3 linked regions of the Homo sapiens genome follow. The main gene of each other region encodes a partner of the protein of the gene in region 3 in a complex. Each region holds a gene or a part of one and is shown on either strand. Other genes may lie near its edges. The genes, in order: CWC22, PLRG1 and CWC27.

Evidence for each region.
Region 1: the proteins of CWC27 (region 3) and CWC22 are in contact, whole or in part, in a crystal structure (PDB 6YVH), measured with the Homo sapiens proteins. Residues at the interface, in NP_005860.2 of Homo sapiens: Arg381, Glu382, Asp383, Gln384, Thr385, Leu386, Leu388, Leu389, Phe392, Lys393, Lys395, Leu396, Thr397, Ile400, Glu412, Asp415, Asp416, Glu417, Gly418, Trp419, Met420, Ser421, His422, Val423, Leu424, Gln425, Phe426; in NP_001362958.1 of Homo sapiens: Leu239, Arg242, Lys243, Tyr245, Arg246, Asn248, Asp249, Lys250, His270, Glu271, Val272, Leu275, Glu276, Thr279, Leu280, Leu281, Glu283, Arg284, Thr286, Asp288, Ser289, Val292, Val307, Ser308, Pro309, Arg310, Gly311, Thr367, Met369, Leu372.
Region 2: CWC27 (region 3) and PLRG1 share a complex: the UniProt entries of both Homo sapiens proteins name them as parts of the minor spliceosome.

What each region holds. Positions count from the first base shown.
Region 1 is NC_000002.12:180,005,272-180,009,021, forward strand, and holds the start of CWC22 (pre-mRNA-splicing factor CWC22 homolog), read right to left. Parts: upstream 2,027-3,750; 5' UTR 1,596-2,026; intron 1-1,595. UniProt on the Homo sapiens protein: Required for pre-mRNA splicing as component of the spliceosome. As a component of the minor spliceosome, involved in the splicing of U12-type introns in pre-mRNAs. Promotes exon-junction complex (EJC) assembly.
Region 2 is NC_000004.12:154,548,437-154,552,186, forward strand, and holds the start of PLRG1 (pleiotropic regulator 1), read right to left. Parts: upstream 1,965-3,750; 5' UTR 1,873-1,964; coding exon 1,864-1,872; intron 500-1,863; coding exon 393-499; intron 1-392. UniProt on the Homo sapiens protein: Involved in pre-mRNA splicing as component of the spliceosome. Component of the PRP19-CDC5L complex that forms an integral part of the spliceosome and is required for activating pre-mRNA splicing.
Region 3 is NC_000005.10:64,766,724-64,770,473, reverse strand, and holds the start of CWC27 (spliceosome-associated protein CWC27 homolog), read right to left. Parts: upstream 1,545-3,750; 5' UTR 1,328-1,544; coding exon 1,286-1,327; intron 1-1,285. Other genes in the region: protein SREK1IP1, read left to right, coding at 1,957-1,969. UniProt on the Homo sapiens protein: As part of the spliceosome, plays a role in pre-mRNA splicing. Probable inactive PPIase with no peptidyl-prolyl cis-trans isomerase activity. As a component of the minor spliceosome, involved in the splicing of U12-type introns in pre-mRNAs.

The sequences.
Region 1 (3,750 bases), on a different chromosome or scaffold from region 3:
ATGGACACTTAAAACTAGGACACTAGCCGGGAGCGGTGGCTCACGCCTGTAATCCCAGCACTTTGGGAGGCCGAGGCGGGTGGATCACAAGGTCAGGAGACAGACACCATCCTGGCTAACACAGTGAAACCCCGTCTCTACTAAAAATACAAAAAATTAGCCAGGCGTGGTGGCGGGCACCTTAGTCCCAGCTACTTGGGAGGCTGAGGCAGGAGAATGGCATGAACTAGGGAGGCGGAGCTTGCAGTGAGCCGAGATAGCGCCACAGCACTCCAGCCTGGGCGACAGAGTAAGACTCCGTCTCAAACAAAACAAAACAAAACAAAAAACAAAAAACAACTGGAAGGACACTTACAGGTGGAAAGGCAACATTCAGAACCAGAGAACAAGAATTGAGGAACAGAGAGAACTCATCAACTGTATCATAGTAGTAATTTACAATAATACAACGCTAACGCTGTGCTCAGTGCCTCATCTGCATTATTTTTCTTTATACTCAAAAAAAGACAATACAGTGAGGCAGGTATTGTATTACTACCTACATGTTTCCAGATGATGAAGCTGACACTAGAGACTTTAGGTAACTTGCTCCAAGTGACAGACCTAATAATAGCTGGATAAAACAGAAATCTTTGGTCTACTAGTCCATCACCCAGGACCAACACAAGTGGCTTTCCTCCACCTACTGATAACGCCTGTAACAATGCTTCTCCTCTCCTGGTCAAAACCACACTTTTAATGTCAATTTTAAATCTGCCCTTCCATAGTAGGATGATAATTTATGTTAACTCCTGAATTCACAAGCAATCCTAAAACAAGGTAAGTCTAAATACAGATAAGAGGTAGGTTAACTGATCTGCTGAGAACCAAGTTTGCTTGCTTATCTGCTATTTCGAGTCTCTGCACATCTAAAAATGCAAAGGAAACTCTTACCTAATTCTTGCATCTAGAATAGCCTTTCTCCAAATCCTGCCTTCTCCACTTACCTCAGAAGAATTGTTAGGATTAAATGGAAATAGGTACCGTGGTTTTTGCAGTTAAACTCAGTGAAATTAACTATTATATTTCCGTTATATAATGCTGTGTTGTAGGACCCAGAGCTCGTTAGAGAGGTGGAGCCTGGAGACCCAAGTTTGGCAGTTATTACCTCACTGGAGATAGTTCAAGTTATGGAAGGATCAAGAATGACAGATGAAGCGGGCACATGAGAAGCGAAGTGTCTTCAAGACTAAACACTAGACACTATCAGTATTTACAGGGCAAATAAATGAAAAAGAAGACGCTAATGAAATTTAAAACAAATAGTCAAAGGGATATAATGCCGGCAAGAGGCATAAGAGTGCAAGTAATTCAACTAACTTTTAATCAACTAGATCTCATTAATCCCACTCCCCTGACCCTGGGACCCGGGCACTAGGAAAGGGGCTTTGGCAAGCCCCAATGGACTCCAGAGGCTCTAAGTATAAAACGCAGTGCACAAGAAACAACACAGCACCAGCGTTGGTGCAGGATTTCAGACAGCTCCAGGAACTTCACAAGGAAGGTCAGCCGGTCCGCTCAGGCAGTCAGTTCATGGCAGCCCATTCCCTCCCCACCTGCTTGGACCTAGCCGCTCTCACACCCCTCTTGCGGGCCCGAGCGTAGCGAGAAGACCCACGCACACTCCAATGCCGCTCACAGCCGTATCAGTGAGCCCGCACCCACTCCTGGGGGTCTTTTACTTCCCACCCGATCCGGCGACCCGCCACCCCCACTCCGCGTCTCTGCCTGCGGGGACTCCACGGAGTTCGATAATTACCTAGAGCTCCACCGCGCCGCCATTACACCGGACGTACGTCACTTCCTCTTCCCGAGCACCGACGGTAGGAAGAAGGCGAATAGTGAAATATTTAAAAACTTGACGCTCAATTGGCTTGACACGTTATCCCTTTAATTTATTTCAAATACCATATCATAATACCAGAGTCAAAGTAGTCGATCCAGGCACACTGTCTTGTTGCCAAAATGGCGACAAAAAAGAGAAGTTGGCATGAACTACAAAGTCCGAAATCCAGCGCCTGTGCTGACGGAAATGAGGAAAGCATAATTGTAGTTTAGCGTGAAATGGCGCGGTGTACGATGGGAATTGTAGTTCATACAGATGCGCGCCAGCGAGTTAACATCCACGCTGCTCACTGGCAGCCTAGTAGTGTTCAGGGTCTAGCCGAATTTACTTTAAAACTATTTCACTGCATTTTGGGGAAATTTTTTTTAAAAAAGCAGTCAGTTGTCACTTTCCTTGAAAAATCTTAAGAGAGAGATTTTCCTGAGACTTTATAAGAGTTTGACCAACAGTTAAGTGCCTAATAAATTCCAAGATATCCAGGCCATAAGAATGGGAGAATATTAAATCATAAATAGAGTGAAATAATGAGGAAAAACTAATTCTATAGAGACTGTGTTGCCTCTCTTTTAGGTTAAGGTACCAACTGGTATGACCTGAGAATAAAGAGATTGCCTGGCTGAGTAGGAAGTAGCAGTTTGTACAGCGTGCAGAACTAGGGCATCAAACAGTTTCTTTAAACTTCACTTTTCACTAGTAACAAAACCTAAAAGTTCAACTACTTGCTATTTTGGAAACTCTCTTCCTAAACCAAGAATATCTTTATGTTATCAAATCTTTCATAAACCAGGACTGGTTTCTCCACACACTTCTCTATTACAGTTTTAGGGTGCTGTGCTTCCACTCCTTTCTGGAGGCAGAGTGTGATGATTAAGAATAAAAACACTGCAGTTGGACTACTTATTTTGAATCTTGAGTCCTTTTATTATTTATGGATGACTGGGGCAAGTAACTTCACATTCTGTGGCCGTTTCCTGATCTGTTAAATGGAAATACCAATAGTATCCATCCAGGCAGTAGTTTTAAGAATTGAATTAGTTGATACACAAGATGCATTTAAGATAATTGCTAGTATACAATAGTGTTATCTATTTTATTTCATATTTAAGATATTTGGCCATTGTTGATGGTGCATTTTGGTGCACCAATACAGGGCACAGGAGATGGATCTGGAGATGAACATTTGTATTCATATATTTAAAAACCCACAATACTACCGGTGATGGTTAATTCTGAATGTCAACTTGATTGGATTGAAGGATGCAAAGTATTGATCCTGGGTGTATCTGTGAGGGTGTTGCCAAAGGAGATTAACAGTTGAGTCAGTGGACTGGGGAAGACAGACTCACCCTTAATCTGGTGGGAACAATCTAATCAGCTACCATCGAATATAAAGCAGGCAGAAAAATATGAAAAGGCAAGACTGGCCTAGCCTCCCAGCCTATATCTTTCTCCCATGCTGGATGCTTCCTGCCCTCAAACATTGGACTCCAAATTCTTCAGTTGTGAGACTCAGACTGGCTCTCCTTGCTCCTCAAGCTTGCAGACAGCCTATTGTGGGACCTTGTGATTGTGTAAGTTAATACTTAATAAACTCCCCTTTTTATATATATATCCTTATATATAGATATATATATTAGGATATATATATAAGGATATATATAAAAAATAGGATATATATGTAATAGGATATATATACGTGTGTGTGTGCGTGTGTGTGTATCTATCTATCTATCTATCTATCTATCTATCTATCTATCTATATCCTATTAGTTCTGTCCCTCTAGGGAACCCTGATGAATATACTACCTCTACAACTATCAACAGAAATAGGAAAGTTAGGGTTGAGCAGAGGAGAACTAGATGGA
Region 2 (3,750 bases), on a different chromosome or scaffold from region 3:
CCAAAAATATGCCACCACTCAAAAATCTTCATCATACTAACGAGAAAAGATGGGAGTAGAGGTACTAGCCAGGTACAATTTCAGCTCAGCAAGGCTCTGAGAGCAGCGGGAAGCTGAAAGCACATACAAAGTGATTGATTATAAAATAAAATACCTAAAAGGGACTCTCTTAATTACTGGGTATTTGTAAAATGCAATTAATTAATGGAACTTTTACTGTAAAAGGCCAAAAAAAAAAGTTAAATCAGCTTAAATTATGCCAAAACACCACTCATTATTGAATAATTAGCCCATGACTAGCTTATCTTTAAAGGACTCCCTCTCCCTGCTCTCTTCCCCTAGTATTAGAATGTTAAGTATTTTAGCAATTGAAAAAAAAAAACTACACCAACCTCTCTTCATCTAAAGGCACAGGTTTTCCATTATCAGCTACAAACATGTCATGGGTCCTCTTCAACGACCTGAACACAAGGGTGTGTACAGAATGTTTCTGTACCTCCTAAAAAAAAAGAATGTAATTACACACCTATCTACAAATTACACAAATCATAACCTAAAGTCAGATTGATTATACACTTCACGTGTTTAAATATGTAAAAAGCTTTATACCACTCACCATAGCTACTTGTTGCAAGCTACAGGAGTCAAGTTCAGAGAAGAGGAGGAAGCTCCTCTTTGGCTAGAACCTCAGGTTTAGCAACTGAGTGATGCCGGAGTTTAACTTACTCAATAAATATTTACTGAGCTCCTACTGTGTGTCTGGCAGGTATTGTGCTAGAATCTCACAATAGAATGATAAAAAGGTGGTCATGGTCCCTGTGCTCAAGAGGAAACAGACAAATAAAAAGTAAAATAATTCCACATTTTGATAAGTGCTATGAAGGCAACAAGCAAGGCGCTGAGTCAGGGAATGAAGGACTAAGTATAATTGTGAAAGATTTCACTAAGGTGATATTTAAGCAGAAAGGGAGTTAGCCTTGCACAAAACAGAGGTAAGAACGAACCAGGCTGATGGAAATGTCATGTAAAAAAAAGTTCAGTTAACTGAAATAATACAAGGAGCGCAGTACAGCTGTGTATGGAGGATGAGATGGTGCTTTGTAGCTGCAAGGGTAGACAAGGTCCAGATTAGGTAAGGTCTTTTAGACTATTACAACAGCCTATATTTTGTTCTAGCAACATAGGGTCAGTAAAGGGTTTTAAACAAGAAAGGTATGAACAACTTACGTTTTAAACAGAACAACTTATAGAACAAAATGGAAGCAAGGAAACCAACCAACGGGGAGCTAATGCACCAGTCCAGGTGAAAGATGATGTTGGTCTCAATTAAGGTGGACTGCAGCGGATATGGAGAAGAGTGAATGGAATCAATAAACATGTGGGGTAAGATGGACAAGACCAGCTAACAGCGTTGGCTGTTCATGCCAGGGAAAGATGTAAAGAACGGCAAGTTTTTCTGGGGGTAGAGGTGAAATAAGAGACGACCTGAACGCAAGATAGAGAAGACTACCAATCTTTTAGGGCACAGACTCACTGACACTGCCCCGAGGGCGGCAAGTACCAGTGGTCGATCACCAACAGAGGCCCCGCCTCCGAGGACACTTTCCAGCTCCCAAGAGTCAAACGAGGACTGGACGAATTATCTCAGGCTTCGCGCCCAGGCTGAACCTCCGACTCGGGTTCTCATCCGGCTTCTACCCCTTCCCCGAAAACCCGAAGAAGAGACCACTCGGCCTTGGCCAAATAGCTCCCCTCGTAGCCTCTTTTCTCTCTGGACTCCAAGTACTCTCAATCCCCCACGCGCACTGCCAAAAAAAACAGTCCAGAGACAAACGACTCTTGAGAGCCCCAGTGTCACTTTACCTCGACCATGATGCTACCGTGTATCCCACCTCCGGCAGGGAAGAAACTCTAATCACTAACGCAGTACCCGCCGCCACAGCTGTGCAGCACCTTCCGGAATTGGGCGCCCAGGCGGCGGATGTGATGCAAGCTCTGCGCACGCGCGCTAGTCTCCCTCGGCCATCTAGGATCAGGAGGCGGGTCTCCCTCCTCGGGACCGCCTCTAGGGCGGAGTCTCGAGGCTGAAAGCCGGAGACTCCTGGAAGGGCCTGGGTGGAGGGTTTCACTCGTCCCTCTGAAGAAATCTTAGAATTATGTTTTCTGCCTTAGTTGGGGTCCTGGTTGTTCGTGCTGTATTCCCCGGAAGCTTAACGCTTTTTATTCAGAGAACCTAAGCGTCTGGAGAGCAAACTCCCGTGGGCTCTATCTAAGGCATTTCCACTACCTTGATCTCTTTGGAGGTCGCCTGCGTGCTTTGTGTCTCCTGGTTCTAATCCTGGCGAGAAGCACTTGGACACTTGTAGGCTTAACACCTGAAAACAATTTCGCTTAAACAGTCCAGTAAACACTTGTTAAGTGAACGTTGAGGAATAGCTGTTTTAATTTGGAAAATTTTGACATGTAGTTATAACAAAACCCCATATTTATTTTCTGCTAATAGATTTTTTTTTTTAATTTCTCAAAACTGCATAGCTCTTGTCCATTTCCTAGTTGCCTGCTGATTATTGTGGCTTCAACAATGCCAGGGTACAGCTTTTCAAAGCTGGTAGAAGACACAATTGGAGACTTTAGCCATTTTTATTTATACATATCCTTGTGCCAAGTATTGGTATTTTTGCTTTCTACCCTGGTAAAATCTGTGGTTTGTGATCAACCCTACCCAATTATTTTTCTATGTAAAAAAAAAAATGGATGGACTTAGGCATTTACAAACTTAAATAGACAAACATTTTACTGGCCCTGTTTCAGTTTCACTAATCCTGTCCTGAGAGCATACTGCTTACACTTTGAGAGGGGGAAAAAATCTAGCAAAAGAATAGCAATATAAATCAACCTTACTTGGAAATTCATTAAAAACATTAAGGTCATGGGTTTTTGTTTGAGACAGAGTTTCGCTCTTGTCGCCCAGGCTGGAGTGCCATGGCGCGATCTTGGCTCACTGCAACCTCAGCATCCCAGGTTCAAGCTATTCTCCTGCCTCAGCCTCTGGAGTAGCTGGGATTACAGGCGCCCGCCACCATGCCCGGCTAATTTTTGTATTTTTAGTAGAGACAGCGTTTCACCATGTTGGCCAGGCTGGTCTTGAACTCCTGACCTCAGGTGATCCGCCCGCCTCGGCCTCCCAAAGTGCTAGGATTACAGGCATGAGCCACTGAGCCCTGCCTTAAGGTCATGTTTTTACTTGAAGATACAGCATCTCTGAATTTAACTGTGAGTTTGGCCTAAGAATTGCTTTTCTGTAAAGGTGGCAGGTGATGGTATTTCCTTGCAAGAAAATACCATAATTGTAAAATATATACTTGATGAACTAAATAATATACTCACCTATTAATAATAACTATAGAAAATAACATGATTTGAAATGACAATAAAACCATAGAAACCTAAGCAAGACTAATATATATGGCAATATATTAATTGTCTAGTTGGATCTATTAACTTTTTACATATTTAATCATCCTGGAGACATTAATTTAATTTCTCAATAACAACATGGTAATGATTGAGGTAAATTGCCTCGAATTTGCTCCTTTTAAAACACTGTCGTGAATTTATAGAATGATGTCATCCCCTTGAAAGTTTACAATATTTTAGATAAATATAGAACTCAAGTGACCCTATTATTTAGTTCAGGGATTCATGAATTATGTATATTGTAGGAAAATTTTGTATTTATATGGGAATATG
Region 3 (3,750 bases):
TTGATTAGACAGAGGAACAGCAAGTGTGAAGGCCCTGTCTGGCAGGATGGTAAATCTATTCAATCTCTACCAGTGTTTATTAACTGGGGGTGATATTGCCCTCAAGAAACATTTGGAAATAGGAGGAGGTAGGTATTTTGGGTTTTCACATTGATATTAAATAAGATAGGTGAGGGGTGGGATGGACATACTAATCTACAATGCCCAGGAGAAGTTCAAACAAAGAATTGAAAGAATTGGTCTGCCCATAAAATATCCATTACATTTTTGCTGGGAATTACAGCATTTTTGGTTTCACTTTTAAATTGCTCTCATTACATTATCAAATGTCAATGAATAAAAGACTGTATAAATTATTTATGATGCAATCATGTAACAAACAGGATGGTATGTTGTGTAAATTTAGCTTATCTTAATTCAACTATATACTTCCAATCTCATTTTCTCCAATATGCTGATTCATCAAATTTCATATGTGATATAAGCTAGGTCTCAATTTAAGAATTCAGGTGACACTTATTCCACAACAGACTCTTCTGCCTTGTACAGCATACAAACATCTTGGATGGGAATTGGCATACATTAGCCATCAAATCAATCAGAGAAACCTTTCCCCATTCTAATGTGGTAATAGTCCCCATTTCCCACTTTCTCTGACTGACAGTCATCTCAGGTTTTAAAACCAGCTCAAAAGATATCTTTTCCATGAGGCTTTTCCTAACTTCCCCAGTTGTTCACTACTCAGTACCGCCATAGCAACCTGGTCTCTTCTCCACAAGCACGCTTATCAGACATACAGGCTTTTGTTTACCTGTCTGTCTCACAAACTAAACTATAAGCTTTTCCGGGAAAACAACTACCTTACCCATCCATCTTTGTATCTCCGGCGCCTAGTACAGTGCCCAGTGCCTCGCAGGCGTTCAATTAATGATTGTAGAAGAAATGGAGAATGAATGACCTTAGTTAAGCAAAGAATATATCAAACTCAAAAATGTCTGTTTAAAAACCTAAGACCCCAGAAATCGGCTGCATGAGTTGGGTTAAAGCATTAAATAGGACCGGAATGCTGGTAGGTAGAGAAATCTCCACTTGACTTCTTCAAGTACATCCTGAAAAGTACCAACATCAGTGTTTCGATGCAACATTGTCCACATGCAGGAGTAAAGACAACACTTCTCGTGGTCTCTTCCTACCACGAGATCCTGAAACCCACTCCCCACCCCAAATCCGGGAAATCTCACTTTGGGGATCCCAGGACCCCAAGTTCCCTAGATGAGGCTCTCACCTTCCCATTCGTGGGAGGCTCCTGGATGTAGATGTTGCTCATCTTGGTCAGTACAAAGGACTCTGCTCCTTACGGGGGATGAGAGCGGCCGGCCGGCCACTAAAGCTGTCCGCCTACGAGTACACTCTTCCTTAAGTCCAGTGGTGCAGGAAAGCTTCAGTTTGTCAATATCACGCAAGACAGGGACACCAAACACTACCCCTGCCCAAAGGAGCCCCTCACGGACGCCGCCATGTTGTTACCGGACCCGAGCACCGCTAACCCTGAGAAGGGTTATTCCAATGTACTCCAGGGAACGAGAAAAGTCCGTAAAGTTACCATAGCTTAATGTTATTTATGTTATTTGTATTACAATATTAGAAGGGACACTTCATAAGTGTTGGCGGTGTTTACACTACTCTCGTGTGCAGATCAAACTAACTCCCCCTCCAAAACTATCAGTAATGGTTCGGACCATGTGTCTTCTGCAATATGACTCGTCCGGAAACTGCATCCGCATCTACTGGTTCTGCCGTCGCTAGAGGCGTACAGGCCCTTCCCGACCGTAGCGAGGGTGCTGCTGCGCTGGGGGAAGGAAAACGCCGCTTTGACTGTGCCTTGTTCTCACAGCTGGCGGGAAGCAAGCGCCTTTTCGAAAGCCAGAGGCTCGAGTTACCCCTCTTACCACCGTCATGGCAGTCCCAGGTAAGGAGCAATTACAGGGCCTCTGCGTCCGAGCTCCGAAGGGAGCGCAAGGGAGGGTAGGGTAGGGTGCGGCGTGTACGGAGCAGCGCCCATGGGGATTTAGGCGGAGGCCTTAAAATTCACAGGTTTGTTTTGTTTACATGAAAAAGTTTACACTCCAAACATAAACTCTGAAGGAAAGAAAATAACTATCTTCCCCCCAGGAGCCAAGCCCCAGCTGCTTGGGATTACAGGGAAAGTGTATTGTGGAAGGGAGGGAGGAGGGAGAGACTGTAACTGTAGGCCTAAGGGGGCAAGCGGCCGAGAAAAACTACCTTAACTGTGGTATGGCTTAAAACTAAAACTTGAAGTGGGAACACTTGGCCGACCCAGGTAACCGGAGGCATCGTTTGTCTTAGAAGTCGCTAGGACCCACCGGGTGTGCGGGTTCTACTCCTAGCTCTTCCTGTTGTATGTAGCTGCTCCGTGGCCATAGATTGGTCGCTTTGTGCTTCTGGGCCTCAGTTTCCTTATAAAAAGAAGGAGCTTTGTTGAATTATATATAAGATTTCTTCTAACTCTCAAATTCTATGTCCAGAAGTTACTGACCTAAAAACGGTGAACTCTGCAGAATAATTACTTAAAAGATTTTCTCGTCCTCAACTACCAGCTTACTTGGAAGTTCTAGTAGCGGAAAGCATCTCCTCAAACCAGCTTTGCCACTGCAGAACACTGATTGCAGGAGACATTTTCAGAAATACACACTTCTCCACCCCACCTCCCAACTTGGAAATTCCCAGCGCACTTTAGTAATAGAAAAGATTCTATTCTATTAGAATAGAATACTATGAATTGCTATAGAATTACTATGAACTATAGAATTACTATGGTTCAGAACCCTAACTTTGTTTAAACCTGCACTTCCCAGTATTATTTGACCAGGTTCTTTATTCTGTGGCAGCCTTTTTGAACCTCCTTCTACAGATAGCTGTTATTGGAACACTGTGCTTTTGTACTAACTGAAGTTTGCGGAGGAGTACATCTGGAGCTGTGAGAGAGGAAATGTACACTCTTTATTAAGCCTACTGTGTGCCAGGCACTGGTACTGGGCATTGGAAATACAGTGGTGAGCAAGGTAGACATGGTTACGCTTCACACAGAACTTAGAATTTAGCAGTGAAGAGAGAGAAATTTACAGAAAGTGGGACAAGTGCCATGGCAAGGAAAATACAAGACCTTAGCACAAAGTAAGGGCACCAAACACATACAGGATGGGCAGAAGGACTTTCCAAAGGAGGTAGCACTTAGGAGGAGATCTGAATTGTAGGAGGGGTGGCTTGAAGGGAGAGGAGACTGCAGTCGGAGGAACTGGATACGTAAAGGAAGAGGAAATATGTGAAAAGAGGAAATGAAAGATGTTTTCTATGGATGGAACTCAAATACAGATGGGAGATAAGTGAGAAATTAAGTACAGAGGTAGTAGCTGTAGCTAATATTGACTAATATTTATGTGTCAAATATGTCAGAATGAAAGATGTTTTCTGTGGATAGAACTCAAATACAAATGGGAGGTAAGTGAGAAATTAAGTAGATAGTAACTGTAGCTAATATTGACTAATATTTATAAGTCAAATATGTCAGATACTATATCAAACATTGTATTCTATCTCATTTAATATTCACAACTGCACTGTGAAATGAGTATTAATATTCCCATTTTACAGATGAGGACACTGAGGGACAAAGAAATCAAGTAATTTGCCTATTATGAGACAGCTGGAAAGCAAGAAGTCAGTCTGGTT